Regions from separate parts of the Homo sapiens genome. Here region 2 is linked to region 1. Evidence: fine-mapped QTL for protein levels in blood plasma. A gene starts in region 1. The other region holds a variant in brackets. All regions are shown on one strand. Distances are from middle to middle.

Region 1 (8,326 bases):
AAAAGTAAGGCAGGCACTGAGCAGGGTGGTTCATGCCTATAATCCCAGCAACTCAAGAGCCTGAGGCAGGATTAACACTTGAGCCCAGGAGTTGGAGGCTGCCGTAAGCCATGATCGTGCCACTACACTCTAGCCTGGGTGATAGAGCAAGACCCCAACTCCTAAAGAAGCAAACCGTTAACAAAGAAAAAGAAGGCAAGAAAAGCCAGCAGAATCTTGAAGGGTCTTTGATGCCACACTTTGCCTTTTTTTTTTTTTTTTTTTTTTTTTTTTTTATGAGACAGAGTCTCACGCTGTCACCCAGGCGGGAGTGCAGTGGTGCAATCTCAGCTCACTGCAACCTCTGCCTCCTGGGTTCAAGCAATCCTCTTGCCTCAGCCTCCCAAGTAGCTGGGATTATAGGCACACCCCACCACGCCCGGCTAATTTTTTGTATTTTTAGTAGAGACGGCATTTCACCATGTTGGCCAGGCTGGTCTCGAACTCCCAATCTCAGGTGATCCACCTGCCTCAGCCTCCCAAAGTGCGGGGATTACAGGTGTGAGCCACCATGCCCAGCCAATCTGGTTTTTGTTTTGTTTTGAGATGGAGTTTCGCTCTTGTTGCCCAAGCTGGAGTGCAATGGCATGATCTCGGCTCACCACAACCTCCGCCTCCCAGATTCAAGAGATTCTCCTGCCCCGGCCTCCTAAGTAGCTGGGATTACAGGCATGCGCCACCACACACGGCCAATTTTGTATTTTTAGTAGAGACGGGGTTTCTCCATGTTTGTCAGGATGGTCTCGATCTCTTGACCTCGTGATCCACCTGCCTTGGCCTCCCAAAGTGCTGGGATTACAGGCGTGAGCCACCGTGCCTGGCCTTTTTTTTTTTTTTTTTTTTTTGAGACAGAGTCTCGCGCTGTTGCCCAGGCTGGAGTGCAGTCGCCTGCCTTGGCTTCCCCAAGTGCTGGGATTGCAGGCATGAGCCACCACGCCCGGCCAATTTTTTTTTTTTTTTTTTTTGAGACGGAGTCTTGCTCTGTCGCCCAGGCTGGAGTGCAGTGGCACGACCTCGGCTCACTGCAAGCTCCGCCTCCGGGGTTCACACCATTCTCCTGCCTCAGCCTCCGGAGTAGCTGGGACTACAGGCGCCCACCACCACGCCCGGCTAATTTTTTTTTGTATTTTTGGTAGAGACGGGGTTTCACCGTGTTAGCCAGGATGGTCTTGATCTCCTGACCTCGTGATCCTCCCGCCTCAGCCTCCCAAAGTGCTGGGATTACAGGCGTGAGCCACTGCACCCGGCTTTTTTTTTTTTTTTTTTTTTGAGACGTTGTCTTGCTCTGTCACCCAGGCTGGAGTGCAGTGGCACGTTCTCGGCTCACTGCAACCTCTGCCTCCCGGGTTCAAGCGATTCTTCTGCATCGGCATCCCGAATAGCTGGGATTACAGGCGCCTGCCACCATGCCCGGCTAATTTTTGTATTTTTAGTAGAGACATGGTTTCACCATGTTGTCCAGGCTGGTCTCAAACTCCTGACCTCAGGTGATCCACTCGTCTCGGCCTCCCCAAAAGTGCTGGGATTACAGGCGTGAGCCACTGCACCCGGCTTTTTTTTTTTTTTTTTTTTTGAGACGTTGTCTTGCTCTGTCACCCAGGCTGGAGTGCAGTGGCACGTTCTCGGCTCACTGCAACCTCTGCCTCCCGGGTTCAAGCGATTCTTCTGCATCGGCATCCCGAATAGCTGGGATTACAGGCGCCTGCCACCATGCCCGGCTAATTTTTGTATTTTTAGTAGAGACATGGTTTCACCATGTTGTCCAGGCTGGTCTCAAACTCCTGACCTCAGGTGATCCACTCGTCTCGGCCTCCCCAAAAGTGCTGGGATTACAGGCGCAAGCCACCGTGCCCGGCCAATTTTTTGTATTTTTAATAGAGACAGAGTTTCACTATGTCTGCGAGGCTTGGCCGGTTGTGGTGGTTCACGCCTGTAATCCCTGCACTTTGGGAGGCCAATGCAGGTGGATCACCTGAGACCAGGAGTTCGAGACCAGCCTGGCCAACATGATGAAACCCCGTCTCAACTGAAAATACAAAAAATTAGCTACGCGTGGTGGCGTGCACCTGTAATCCCAGCTACTCAGGAGGCTGAGATAGGAGAATTGCTTGAACCCGGGAGGCGGAGGTTGCAGTGAGCCAAGATTGTGCCACTGCACTCCAGCCTGGGCAACGAGAACAAAACTCTGTCTCCACCAAGGTGACATTTTCCACCCTGTGTCCTGTTCCCCAATAAAAACAAATTCACAAATTCACAAAAAAACTAAACTAAACTAAAACTGTCTAAAAAAAAAAAAAAAAAAAAAAAAACAAACAAAAAACCCCACCATGTTGGCCAGGCTGGCCTCCAACTCCTGTCCTCAAGGGATCCTGTAATCTCCGCATTTTGGGAGGCCGAGGCAGGCAGATCACTTGAGGCCAGGGGTTTGAGACCAGATTGGGCGACATGGCAAAGCCCCATCTCTACAAAACATATAAAAATCAGCCAGGTGTAGTGGCATGCGCTGCCTGTAGTCCTGGCTACTTGGGAGGCTGAGGTTGGAGGATAGCTTGAGCCCAGAAGCTTGAGGTTGCAGTGAGCAGAGATCATACCATTGTACTCCAGCCTGGGTGACAGAGCGAGACTTTGTCTTTAAAAAAAAAAAAATAGAGGCTGGGCACAGTGGCTGACGCCTGTAATCCCAGCACTTTGGGAGGCCGAGGCGGGCGGATCACGAGGTCATGAGATCGAGACCATCCTGGCTAACATGGTGAAACCCCGTCTCCACTAAAAATACAAAAAATTAGCCGGGCGAGGTGGCGGGCGCCTGTAGTCCCAGCTACTCAGGAGGCTGAGGCAGGAGAATGGCATGAACCCGGAAAGCGGAGCTTGCAGTGAGCTAAGATCGCACCACTGCACTCCAGCCTGGGCGACAGAGTGAGACTCTGTCTCAAAAAAAAAAAAAAAAAAAAAAAAATAGAATTGACTTGAAGGAGTCAGGCCGGAAGGCCAAATAGGAGATGAATGGGGATAGCGGCTTGAATAAGGGCAGTGGCAAGGAAAATGGGCTAGGGGTTAGGGAAGGGGGCCGACTGGCTGTGCACCCAAATGCTAAAAACGGTCCAGAAAGGAATGTGTTCAGCTATTTTTCAAGGACTTCTAAATTAAACTCTCTTAAATGATGTTTATATTAAGGCTGGTGGTGGAGTCTTTCAGAGGCAGTGTTGGTGCTAGAAGAGCTCTTGAGGATCATACAGCCTCCCCCCTCAATTTCACAGTGAAAGAAAACCTCAGAGAAGCAAAGCAACTTGCTCAAGGTCACACAGCATTTCAGTGGTAGAACATGACTCGTGGTTCTTAGATAGCATTACCCAGCCTCCACTGAGGCTAATGGCTGTAGGCGCTATGCCAACATGACTAGATCTAAGGTGACCCAAGCTATATTTTAAGGGACTGAACGCAGATTCCCTCTCTTCCCCTTCGCCACCCCTTCCTCCACGCGCGACTCCAGTGATCAATGAATAATTGTGGAAACAGTTCCTTTGTGCAGAACACTTTGTTAAAAGAGGTGCAGAGATACACGTCTGCGGTAGGATTCCTTATCCTGAGATCTGAGAGCACCTCGATGCTTCCCCAACCTGCTAGGTGAGGGTGGAAAGGGCATTCCTGAGGCAGCCGGTGCCCCTCCTCTGCCCCCCAACTCCCACGTGGTTTCTCCAGCCAAGTTCTCACGGAGTGGCCCCTCCCTCAGCGGCTCCACTGTTGCCATAGCAATTGGGTGGGTGGACAGCCCGTCCTATCTAGAGGCCACCCAGCCCTCGCGTGGGGAGTTACCATAACAACCCCCTAGTAATAGAGGGGGTTGGGTACCGCCCCCTTCCCCCGCAAATGGAAAGGTGGGTGGCTTGATTGGCAGCTGGGCACACGAAAGAAGGAGGGAAAGGGAAGGAAAGGCGTCAAAGGAGATCTGAGAAGGAAATAAGGGAGAGAAAGGGCAAAAAAAATAGGGAAAGAAAAGGAAACGCGTGTGCGCACGCGCACCAGCTGGTGGGCGCGCTCCGCGGCCGCCTCGGCCGCCGCCCACTTCTTTCACGCCAGGCTCGCGCGGTCGCTCCGTCCTCGCGCGCGCCTTTCGCCTGCTCGCCTGCGCCTGCGCGCAGGTGTCGGCGCCTAGGGGGAGGGGGCCCCGGCGCGCTCGCGTCACGCTCGCGCTTCCACCCTCCCAGTGCGCGGTCGCTCCGCGCCTGCGCAGGAGAGGTGGTAGGCTCGGGTGGCTGGCTCCGGGGAGATAGCGCCTGTCAGTCGGTGGGTCGGTCCTCGCGCCGGCCCTCCCCCTCCCCGGTCTCCGGGGGAGGCGCGGTGGAGTCCGCCCCCGGGGTTCTCCGATGGGGGAGAAGCGGCGACGGCGGCAGTGGAGTAACCGAGCCGGAGCGTGAGCGGCCCCGGTGCCCCGTTCCCCACGGAGGCCATGGGCGACCCAGCCCCCGCCCGCAGCCTGGACGACATCGACCTGTCCGCCCTGCGGGTGAGCGCGCCGTCCCCCAGCCTCGCCCTGGTTCCTGTCCCCGCCGCAGGGGAGGGAGCGGGGTGGCTGCACGCCTCACGTGCTCCCGGGCGCCCCCTCCACCAGCTTGGGTCCCCTTGGCGACCCGTGCCCCTTTCCCGGACTCCCGCCGCGGCTGGGCCCCCGCCCTCTGCTCCCTTCTCTCTCCACTGGCTGCAGATGCTGGGAGCCAGTTCGGTCCCCACCCTGTGGTGCCCCGCCCCCACACTTCCGTGCCACCCTACCTTTACTCTGGGGTTCGGGACCCACTGGTTCGCCTAAACTTAGCCTCCCCCATCACCTGGAGAACCTTTATTGTGGTTCCTTACCTCCTTTCGGCCCTTTTCCACCTTTGCCCTTACTTCTATCTTCTTCCTTCCCCTCCTCTTCCTCAGCTCCTGGAATTTTGACTTTGCAACTGTCTCGACAGCCTCTCTCTCATCCCTCTTTCTCTGCCTCGCCCACCCTTGAATTGCATCCTTTCCCTGGTCGGAATTTCAGCTACCCCACCCCTCGTGCCGTCACCCTCAATCCCATGTTCAGTTTTCCCTATCCCTTCTCTCCTGTTTCAAGTGCAGCAGTTCAGAACCAGGCATTTCCGGTCTCAGGGTCCCTGAATATTACATGACCAACTCTGCAGCAGCGTGGGGCTGGGAGCCCTCGGGGAGGAGGGGAGGCATTTCTTCTCTTTGGAAACTGTAGCACGGGCTGGGAAGAGGATGTTTACACACACACACACGCGCACACACGACACATGCTACATGTGGTCAGGCTGAAGGTTTGGAAAGGCAGTGGGTGTTTATGTTAGCTAAAGGCTGGAAGCAATGGAGACCTCTCAAGGTAGGGGCTAATAAGGAAAGGGGTTGAGAGGAAGCAAATGCTGCAGGAATTTCTTGGAAATACCCGTTCATTGTCCCTTGTGGGGCACTTACACACTCTGGTGGAAGAGCTTTCTGTAGCATTTATGTTTTTCTTCGGCAGGGAGCTTTGGCTTAAGGGGCAACTTAGTGATTTCAAGGTGAACACTCCAGACTATCAGCCAGGTGGTGTTTTGATCCTGTGCCCTTCCAGCGCTCTCACCAGGCCAAGGTGTGGGGAGAGCAGGACTTCCCATCTCTAGGTTCGCTTCTCTGGAGGCCCCTGCTCAGACTGTCTTCTGGCTTTTGAGTCAGCCAGGGAACATGGCCAGTAGTGGGAAAAGGCGGTCAGCCACACAGGTGCCCCGGATATGGCTGGAGGGGAGAGGGGAATTGAAGAGAGCAGAGTCATGTTGTTAATTGGGTTTCTCTAGGTGACACAGTTTTTTTTCTTCCCATTTTCAGGTCATAATTTGTTTGGTGCAATGTTGGGCTATGAGACCTGACTTGCTGGAGATAACGTGATAAATTTCTGGGGAGAGGGACTGAACGCTGAATTTCTCTGTGTGCGCAGGCACATGTGTGTGTGTTGATGAGGAGAGGGTCTGAAGGCTTTAGGAGGGAGATTCTTAAGGTCAGCTTGGCCAGGGTTTAAACTGGGATGCCCAAGTCGGGATATAAGATGGAAATCCAGATTCTGAGTAAAAGTCCCTTAATGTGCTCCATTCTGGGATGAACTTCCACCTTTCCTTCCTACCTTGGTTATTGATTAACTGGCTACAGGTTCCTGTGGCTGGGGTGACTAAAATACAATAAAAAATGGGTGGGTCAGGCCGGGCGAGGTGCTCACACCTGTAATCCCAGCACTTTGGGAGGCCGAGGTGGGGCATCACCTGAGGTCAGGAGTTCGGGACCAGCCTGGCCAACACTGTGAAACCCCATCCTTACTAAAAATACAAAAATTAGCCACACGTGGTGGCACACACCTGTGATCCCAGCTACTCAGGAGGCTGAGGCAGGAGAACTGCTTGAACTGGGGAGGTGGAGGTTGCAGTGAGCCAAGATTGCACCACTGCACTCCAGCTTGGGCGACAAAGCGAGACCTTGTCTTAAACAAAACAAAACAAAACAAAAAAACGGGGCGGGTCCAAACCACAACCTTTGCTTTGAACCTTGTGGGACTCTGCTTGGGTTTCTCTTTTAGCCTCTTTTGGTAGTTTGGCCTGGACCCTCAACCTGGGATTTCCAGCAATTCCACAAATACCCTCTGACCTTAGATGTGGTATTTCCCTTCTGGACTTCTCGGCTTGAAGCAATGTTAGCCTTCCTCAGTTGCCTCCAGCCTTACTCTCCTCTCCCCTCAGGAGACCGGGTGACCTGCTCCCAGTGCTTCTGTCTGGCCTGCCTTAAGCTGCTTAAGAAAGCATTCTGCTTCCCCCTTTCCACCCTAAAATGCAAGGGCTTGAGGGAGGGCTGTACCTCCTTTGACATGGGGCTAGCCAGGGCCTACCTTCTCCCTGCTGCAGACCTTTTCTCAGTGCCTGTCCCCCTGACTCCACCTCAGAGAGCTGTGGCACTGTCAAGCAGCTAGTGTGGTCATCTCTTGTGCTATTCCTGTCTGTTTTCCAGTGAGAAATGGTGTCTCCCTTTACTACACCATCTTGTGTTGGGGGCTGGGGAGAGGGATGGGAGAGGAACATATTCAGTATTTATTTGCTGGCCTTAAGGAGCCCAAGGTGTATTTCTCCTCTTGTTTCAAGATAAGGCTTGGTTTTCAGCTGGTGATGAGGGTAATCGTCTGATATTAGGGAAGATTGAATTGCGTTAATCTCTTAGCCATGTGTGGGGAGGCCAGATGGACCTGCTACTTTGTAGCCACAGCCACACTTGACCTCTTTGAGGTTCCTTTTCTCCACCAGCCTGGCTGCAGCGTGGTGAGGAAAAGCATGTGGTTTGAAGTTGCAGCCCTGAGTTCAAGTCCTAGTTTCTTCCCTTACAATGTAACCCTGGCCCTGCTCCCCTTACTGCAGATTCTGCCAAGAGCCTTACCCTCTCTAAGCTTCATTCAGTCCTGTATCGTGGGCATGGTAATAGTACTGAATGCAGAGTTGCTGAGGATTAAATGCACGTTAAGTACATAGTACAGTTCCCAGCACACAGTGATCATATATGTGATAGCCCTTTTTGCAGTTATTTTTATCAAATGGCAATCAGAGAAGCCTTCCAGGACAACTTTATCTAAAATAGCACTCCCTCCTCTGCTTTATTTTTATACAAAATTTTATATAGCATTCCCTTAGTCTGCTTTATCCTTCCTCATAGTATTTATCACCAGCTGACATATATATTCCTGTCAGCCCCACTAAAATGTCAGTTCAGTGGCCGGGTGTGGTAGCTCACGACCGTAATCCCAGCACTTTGGGAGGCCGAGGCAGATGGATCACCTGAGAGGTCAGAAGTTCGAGACCAGCCTGGCCAACATGGTAAAACCCCATCTCTACTAAAAAAAAAATACAAAAAAATTAGCCAGGCATGGTGGCGCACACCTGTAATCCCAGTTACTCGGGAGGCTGAGGCAGGAGAATCACTTGAACCTTGGAGGTGGAGGCTGCAGTGAGCCAAGATTGCACCACTGCACTCCAGCTTGGGCGACAAAGCCAGACTCTGTTTCAAACAACAACAACAACTACAACAAACAGTTCGGTGAAAGCTAAGATTTTGGCTGTTTTGTTCATTTTTGTATCCCCAGTGCCTGTAAGCATGTTTTGCACATAATGGGGGCTCAAACGTTTGTTGCAGAAGTGCCTCTTACAACACGTGCCACTTACAACACAGTGCAGTGCTTGCTTAGAGAAAGTATTCAATAAACCCCAGGCTTCTTAGGCTTCATTTTGCCCCTCTTTTATTT
Region 2 (8,326 bases), 42 kb after region 1:
ACCACTAATCTACTTCTCATCTCTTTAGACTTGCCTATTCTGGACGTTACACATAAATGTAGCCACATAATATGTGGCCTTTTGTGACTAGCTTCTTTCATAAGCATAATGTCTTCAAGGTTCATCCATGTTGCAACATCTAGCAGTAGTTTATTCCCTTTTTTTGTTTTGTTTGTTTTAATTTTTTTTTTTTTTTTTTTTTTAGAGGCAGGGTCTCACTCACTCTGTCACCCAGGCTGGGGTGCAGTGGTGCTATCATAGGTCACTACTGCCTTCCGCTCCTGGGCTCAAGGGATCCTTCCACCTCAGCCTCCCATGTAGCTGGGACTACAGGTACATGCCACCTTGCCTCACTAATTTTTTAAATTTTTTGTAGAGATGTGGTCTTATTATCTTGCCAAGGTTGGTCTCAAACCTGCCAAGCAGTCTCAAACCACTTGACCTCAAGTGATCCTCCCGCCTCTGCCTCCCAAAGTGCTGGGGTTATAGACATGAGCCACCATACCTGGTCTTCATTTCTTTTTATTGCCAATATCATTCTATTATATAGATATACCACATTTATCTGTTCATCAGTTGATGGATATTTGGGTGGTTTCTACTTTTTGGTTGTTAATAATCCTCCTGTGGGCATCCATCTACATATTTTTGTGTGGATATATGTTCTCAGTTTTCTTGAGTATCTACCTAGAAGTGGAATGGCTGAGTGATATGATAACTCATTGTTTAACATTTGAGGAACTGCCAAACTGTTTTCCAAAGTGGCTGGACCATTTTACATTCCCAGCAGCAGTGTATGACAATTTCAGTTTCTCCATGCCCTCAGCAACGCTTTTGATTGTCCATCCTTTTCTAGATGGGGTAGGGAGGTGATCTCACTCTGTTGCCCAGGCTGAAGTACAGTGGCATGACCATAGCTCACTGTAGCCTCAAACTCCTGGACTTATAGGATCCTCCTGCCTCAGCCTCCTGAGGGAAATACAAATCAAAACCACAATGAGATACCACTTCACACCTACTAGGATGGCTCCAATCAAAAGGATGGACAGGCTGGGTACAGTGGCTCACTCCTGTAATCCCGCACTTTGGGAGGCCGAGGTGGGCGGATCACTTGAGGTCAGGAGTTTGACACTGGCCTGGACAACATGGTGAAATCCTGTCTCTACTAAAATACAAAAAATTAGCCAAGTGTGGTGGCAGGCAGCTGTAATCCCAGCTATTCAGGAGACTGAGGCAAGAGAATCACTTGAACCCAGGAGGTGGAGGTTGCAGTGAGCTGAGATTGCACCACTGCACTCCAGCCTGAGCAACAGAATGAGACTAAGTCTTAAAAAAAAAAAAAAAAAGGATGGACAGAGTCAGGCATGGTGCCTCACCCCTGTAATCCCAGCAGTTTGGGAGGCCAAGGCAGGTGGATCTCTTTAGCTCAGGATTCAAGACCAGCCTGGGCAACACGGTGAAACCCCGTCTACATAAAAAGTACAAAAATTGGCTGAGCGCAGTGGCTCACGCCTGTAATCCCAGCACTTTGGGAGGCCGAGGTGGGTGGATCACGAGGTCAGGAGTTTGAGACCAGTTTGACCAACATGGTAAAACCCCGTCTCTACTAAAAATACAAAAAATTACCCAAGTTTGGTGGTGCGCGCCTGTAATCCCAGCTACTCAGGAGGCTGAAGCAGGAGAATTGCTTGAACCCAGGAGGCGGAGGTTGCAGTGAGCTGGGATCGTGGCACTGCACTCCAGCCTGGGTGACAGAGACTCTGTCTCAGAAACAAAAGAAAAATCAACTCCTCAAACATCCACCCTTTTTGGCTTCTTCCCCTCCATGATGATGAACGATCTTCCCTATTTTGAAAACCCTATTGTCTGACTTTGCTGCCAGCTCTAGCTGTCATCTGATTTTCCCCCTTCCTCTCAAGGTTAGACTTCTCCAGAAAGGGTGCTGCCCTCATTTCCTCAGCACAGCCCTGTCTCCTCCAGCCCCCGCTGTCTGCCCTCTGCTCACACAGCGGCAGTTCCCAGTGGTTTCCGAGCTGCTGAAGTCAGTGGGATTTTTTTCAGTGCCCTCTGGCTGCTCTGCCGCATTCGAGGCCATCACTCCCCTTATCCCCCTGCAGCCTCCATGACCATCTCCTCTTCTGGCGTCTGTTCTGCTGCTCTCACGTGTTGCCCTTGGCCATCCACATTCTCCCTAGATATCTTGTTTGTATCTCCAACTCTTACACTCACGAATGTCTGTAAATTGTATTTACAGATCCTTGTTTCTAACTGCACAATAGAATGTACCTGTGTATCCTTTAACATCCCCAATTCAACATTCAAACCCAGCCTGTTCTCCCACAGCACAGCATGACAATAGAATGTACCTGTGTATCCTTTAACATCCCCAATTCAACATTCAAACCCAGCCTGTTCTCCCACAGCACAGCATGACAATAGAATGTACCTGTGTATCCTTTAACATCCCCAATTCAACATTCAAACCCAGCCTGTTCTCCCACAGCACAGCATGACAATAGAATGTACCTGTGTATCCTTTAACATCCCCAATTCAACATTCAAACCCAGCCTGCTCTCCCACAACACAGCATGGTCTTCGCCACTCTTTTTTCTTTTCTTTTTTTTTTTTTTTTTTTGAGAAGGCGTCTCACTCTTTCACCCAGGCTGGAGTGCAGTGGCGCAATTTCGGCTCACTGCAACCTCCACCTCCTGAGTTCAAGCGATTCTCCTGCCTCAGCCTCCCAAGTAGCTGGGTTTACAGGTGCCCACCACCATATCCAGATGATTTTTGTATTTTTTAGTAGAGACAGGACTTCATAATGTTGGCCAGGCTGGTCTCGAACTCCTGACGTCTGATGATCCGGCGTTCTCAGCTTCCCAAAGTGCAGGGATTACAGACATGAGCCATCACGCCCAACCCTAAGGTGGACTTTTTACACAATCCAACCCCCTCTTAGCTTGTGGGAGAGGACCGAGGCCTCAAACAGTTAAATACTTGCACAGAGGCACACGACTAGTGCCAGAGTTGAAAACCCCTCTCCCATGCTCTTTCCACCACACCAAGCAGCATTTCAGCGGCTTTCGTGCTTTCGGTTGCTGTTTATGATATATAATCGTAGACTGCCACATTTTCATATTTGAGTACTTGGCCAATCTATAAAATTATAAGGTTTTATATTTCTCATATATTGGTGAGCTCCCTTTTGTGTCTAATTCGGGAGTTATTACATAGTTTGTGCTCAGGAAATATGTAATGGATGAATGAAATGAGATACGATTGCCTTACAGGTTTTCCCTGCTTAGGGCTTAGCCCAGTGCAAGGCAAATGGAGGCACTCATTCAGAAGATATTTAGTGGTTGGATAATAACGGGGCATCGTTAAATGTCAGGCTGAGGTGTTGGGACTCTCTAAGCATTGGGGAGCCCCACTACCAGTTCTGGGCAGAAGAGTAAAATCAGGAAAGCGCCATTTTGGAAGAGTTAAATCAGTGGCAGCAGAAGGAAGACATGGGGGAGGCTAGAGTTCCAGGAGGGAGGACATGAGGGATTGGTCTGAGTTGGTGGACAAGCCAAGCACATGTTGAAGGGAGAAAGGACAGGGTGGCTGCGATACAGGAAAGGGAGGAGGAGGAGGAGGATTAGGCAGAGGCTGGACTGTGGTGGGAAAGCGGTGCTGCTATTGAAACATGGAGCATCTGGGTGGGGAGGGGGTGAGAGACCACAACCAGAGTGCCACGTGCGGGACCCCAACTTGCTTCTCTGAATCACCCTTTCCAGTAGGAGTTTTCAGGAAACCGACTTGAAACCCATTAAATGTCGATATCTGAACCCAGGGTGTCTGACCTCAAATATTCCTTCCTCCCTCAGTGCCGCCCAGACACGAGAAGGAGACAGATTGGGAGTCAAGGTTACAAAATTAAAATGTACTTGTAGTGATTTGACTTGATGGTGACAGATCATTATGGCTCTAACAGGCCCACGGTATTTTCCCTCTTAGATTAGGAGTGTTCAGAAAATTATGACCCTAGATCCTTTTTCCTGTCTCCCTCCTTCTCAGAAAGAGCTACAGTTTGATTCAAGAAAGGACTTCGCAGCAGTCAGTTCAGACGCCCCGGAATGGATGAGTTCTTCTGTTGGGGAGCTCTGTAGGGAAC[T/A]CTATGGTCTTTGAGCCTCTAATCTAGAACTGAAGACGGATGAGATGACTTTTTTCAGGTTCCTTCCAGCTCTCAGGGTCAGAAAGACCTCTTGTTAGCCCCCTGCACTGCAGTGACAACACCTCTCTTTCCTGTGGATCCTACTGTGATTTACACCCGTTAAATATTGTTTTAGCTGTGCATGCTGGGTCATGCCTATAATATTAATGTGTTGGGAGGCTGAGGTGGGAGGATTGCTTGAGCCCAGGAGTTCAAGGCTACAGTGAGCTGTGATCATGCCACCGCACTCCCACCTGGGCAACAGAGCGAGATCTGACTCTAAAAAAACAAAAATGAGGCCGTGCGCAGTGGCTCACACCTGTAATCCCAACACCTTGGGAGGCTGAGGTGGGTGGATCACCTGAGGTCAAGAGTTTGAGACCAGTCTGACCAACAGGGTGAAACCACGTCTCTACTAAAAATACAAAATTAGCTGGGCGTGGTGGCACACGCCTGTAGTCCCAGCTACTCGGGAGGCTGAGGCAGGAGAATCATTTGAACCCAGGAGGTGGAGGTTGCGGTGAGCCAAGATCGTGCCATTGCACTCCAGCTGGGCAACAAGAGAAAAATTCCATTTCAAAAAAAATGAATAAATTTGTTAGGTTTTTTTTCCCCCCGCCGAGACAGAGCCTTGCTCTGTCGCTTTGGTTGGAGTGCAGTGGTGTGATCTCGGCTCACTGCAACCTCCACCTCCTGGGTTCAAGTAATTCTCCTGCCTCAGCCTCCCGAGTAGCTGTGAATATAGGTGCCCGCCACCACGCCCAGCTAATTTTTTGTATTTTTAGTAGAGACGGGGTTTCACCATGTTAGCCAGGATGGTCTCGATACCCTGACCCCTTGATCTGCCCGCTTCAGCCTCTCAAAGTGCTGGGATTACAGGCGTGAGCCACCGCGCCCGGCCAAGATTTTTTTTTTCGTAACTTTAACTGAAGCCAAATAATTGAATGTAGACCCACAAAGTTCTTGGTCTGGTCAGCCCAGTCCCCTTCAGAGCACAGAGAAGGAACCCCCTTCAGCTGTCAATACTTCCTCCCGAGCAGGCTGGGCTGTTTCCTCAGGCTGCCGCGTGCCAGGCCTCAGTGAGGTCCTAGACATTACCTGGTGAGCAAGGAGGGCTCAGTCCCTTTCTCCAGTGAATAAGACAAGTAAATGTAGAGCACAATGCCTCGTGATACATGCTCTGATGGGGCAGGCACAGGGTGCCGGGGCACGTCTCCGCTCTCCAGCTCCTCTTTGAGAAAATGGAAAAAGTGCACAGTGAGGACATTTTTTAAAAGCCTTGGGCTGGTGTCTCTCTGGTCTTCAACACGCCCAAGTCGTCTTCCTTGGGCTTATTACTTCAGTGGATGAAGTGCTTTTATTGGCATGGATGTGGGCTTTTTTGGTCGTGGGATTTTTTTTTTCCTCCCAGAAACCCTATGTTAGCTTTCAAAATCAAGGAGAAAGGAGTTTTAGATTATATGCTTTTAGGATTATCAGCACAGAGGCCACGTGTTGCCTGGAGAGTTTATTCCCAAGTGCCATCCTCACTTTCTGCCTCCGCTCGGTCCCTGCAGCGGTGGGGACGGGCCCACCCAGTGAAACACCAGGACTGTCAGAACTGTCGGCTCTGAGGCAGGCGTGGTGGCTCACACCTGTAATCCCAGTACTTTGGGAGGCCAAGGCAGGAGGACTGCTTGAACTCAGAAGTTTGAGAACAGTCTGGACAACATAGTGACACCCCGTCTCTACTAAAAATAAAAAAAACTAGCCAGGAGCGGTGGTGCATGCCTGTGGTCCCAGCTGTTCAGGAGGCTGAGGTGGAGGATTGCTTGAGCCCAGGAGACTGAGGCTGCAGTGAGCTGTGATTGTACCACTGCATCCAGCCTGGGTGACAGAGTGAGACTCAGTCTCAAAAGAAAAAAAAAAAAAAGAGCCATCATTCTGCAGGAGGTGCAGGAGTGTGGACAGTACTGGGCTGTATCTCTCTTCAGCTTGCAGCTCCACCTCCCAATTTCTTTCTCTCAAAAAAAAAAGGTTCTGCCAGGAGGGTGTGGGTGGCCTCCCGACCGCAGCTGTGTTGCTGAGGCCTGGCCTGCCTGCTCTTGGCCCAGGGGGAGGACGAGCCTCTTTAGAGGCTTTGTTTGAGCCCTTCGGGCTGTCTCCTTCTGGCACTGCTTGGCTCAGAAAAGTAGGAACAGAAAGTTCTCCCTTCTCAGAGGCCCTTTCTCACCATCACCTGCTGACTCCCTCCGTCCAGGTCCCTTTGGCCCCAATTGCCTCAAACCCTGGCCTGGAAGCCCTCAGTCTCAGGGGGACTGGGAAGAGGGAAGGACAAAAGGATGGTGGCCCTGAAATTCCTGCTCCCTGCTAGCTTTCCTCATCCCTGCTTTTAAGAAGTAAGATAATAATAATGGTCATTAACTTTTATTGGGCACACGCTCTGATGCCAGGAACCATCTGAAGCATTTGATGGGCATTTCTTCACTTAAAATGTGAGTACCAACCCCAGAGGAAGGTACTCGGGCACCCTCATTTTGCACATGAGGGTACAGACGCAGTTTCTCGGTGGGTTTGAAATCGGGAACATGTCTTTGAAAAGCCATCTGCGCTCTGACTTCCATGTTCTCTCACTTCTTTTTTTTTTTTTTTTTTTGAGACGGAGTCTCACTCTGTCGCCCAGGCTGGAGTGCAGTGGCGCAATCTCAGCTCACTGCAAGCTCTGCCTCCCAGGTTCACGCCATTCTCCTGCCTCAGCCTCCCAAGTAGCTGGGACTACAGGCGCCCGCAACCACGCCCAGCTAATTTTTTGTATTTTTAGTAGAGACGGGGTTTCACCGTGTTAGCCAGCATGGTCTCGATCTCCTGACCTCGTGATCCACCTGCCTCGGCCTCCCAAAGTGCTGGGATTACAGGCGTGAGCCACCGTGCCCGGCCACTCACTTCTTCCAACTTTTCCCGTAGAACATTCACTCTGAACCAATCCAGGAAAAGGGCAGCCAGCCACCAGGGTTCCTGCCACGTGCCCTCCTGATATGCTGGTCTTCACTCCCATATCTTGACTGGATACCACTTTACCCCCCTCTAGCTCTGTAATCCTTTTCTAAAGTCTTGACACAGTATTCTTCTGTCTCCTGCCCCTAGGACCCTGCTGGGATCTTTGAGCTTGTGGAGGTGGTCGGCAATGGAACCTACGGACAGGTGTACAAGGTGAGACGAATGGTGTGGAAGTATGACCTCCACATCTGCAGGGCAGTCTTGGGAGGAGTGGAAGGAAGTAGATTCCTGGTCTGCAGGTCTGAAGGGGGCTATGGGAGATGCTAGAGTCTAGGGCCCTGGAAAGGTAGAGTGGGGGAGAGGAAAGAGCACCCAGAAGGAGGTACTGTTGATGCCTCTCTCTACCTGAGTGCAGAGCCAGTCCCGGACATGGTGGGAACAGGCCAGCAGCCAGGCAGGGTGGCCTGCAGCAGTGAGAGCAGGTGGAAGGGCATACGGCCTTGTGTGTCAGAACTCTCCTGGGATTCAGAGAGAGCTAAGGCCAGAGATGTGGGTTTGGCCTCTCCCCAGACCACAAAGAGACCCAGGACTTTGAGGTAGTGGGACCTAATGGGTGGCCTTCTGCAGAGGGGATGTGGCCTCTGCTCCCACAGCTGGCCTGCTGGGGCCAGAGCTCAGGCTTTTGGCTTTTGAGCTGCCTCTGTCCCTGACAGAAGTGGCAGGTTCTCAGCCACTGATGGTAGCTTTTAGGTTGGCCAGCCCAGCCCTCTCGTGTGGCCTGACCACACTGCTCACACTTGGATGGGGGGAGCCACTCCAGCGGGGAGTAAGGTGGCCTGACCACTGCTCACACTTGGATTGTGGGAGCCGCTGCAGCAGGGAGTGAGGTGGCCTGACCACTGCTCACACTTGGATTGTGGGAGCCGCTGCAGCAGGGAGTGAGGTGGCCTGACCACTGCTGACACTTGGATTGGGAGGAGCCGCTGCAGCAGGGAGTGAGGTGGCCTGACCACTGCTGACACTTGGATTGTGGGAGCCGCTGCAGCAGGGAGTGAGGTGGCCTGACCACTGCTCACACTTGGATGGGGGGAGCTGCTCCAGCAGGGAGGGAGGATGCTCAGGGTGAATGCTGCCTCTGACTGGAGCCCCCTGGGGCC

What was found. A credible set is the group of variants that fine-mapping cannot tell apart. PIP is the chance, under the fine-mapping model, that this variant and not a neighbour inherited with it causes the effect. Protein levels are from antibody-based Olink assays in UK Biobank. Linkage for the fine-mapping came from a reference panel and not from the study's own genotypes, which makes the PIPs less certain.
Region 2: its variant is the best candidate, but not a certain one, in a credible set for the plasma level of the MINK1 protein (UK Biobank, PIP 0.68).

What each region holds. Positions count from the first base shown.
Region 1 is chr17:4,829,098-4,837,423 of GRCh38, forward strand. It overlaps MINK1 (misshapen like kinase 1), which reads left to right and starts at 4,243. Exons shown (of 32, transcript NM_153827.5): 1 at 4,243-4,543. The coding sequence starts at 4,487. RefSeq lists an enhancer at 3,300-4,086 and silencers at 4,064-4,533, 4,544-4,793.
Region 2 is chr17:4,871,001-4,879,326 of GRCh38, forward strand. MINK1 (misshapen like kinase 1) reads left to right here. Exons shown (of 32, transcript NM_153827.5): 2 at 7,317-7,382. Among named protein-coding and RNA genes, the nearest start is that of C17orf107, 24 kb to the right of the region's middle. The variant T/A (reference allele first, on the strand shown) is at 4,155.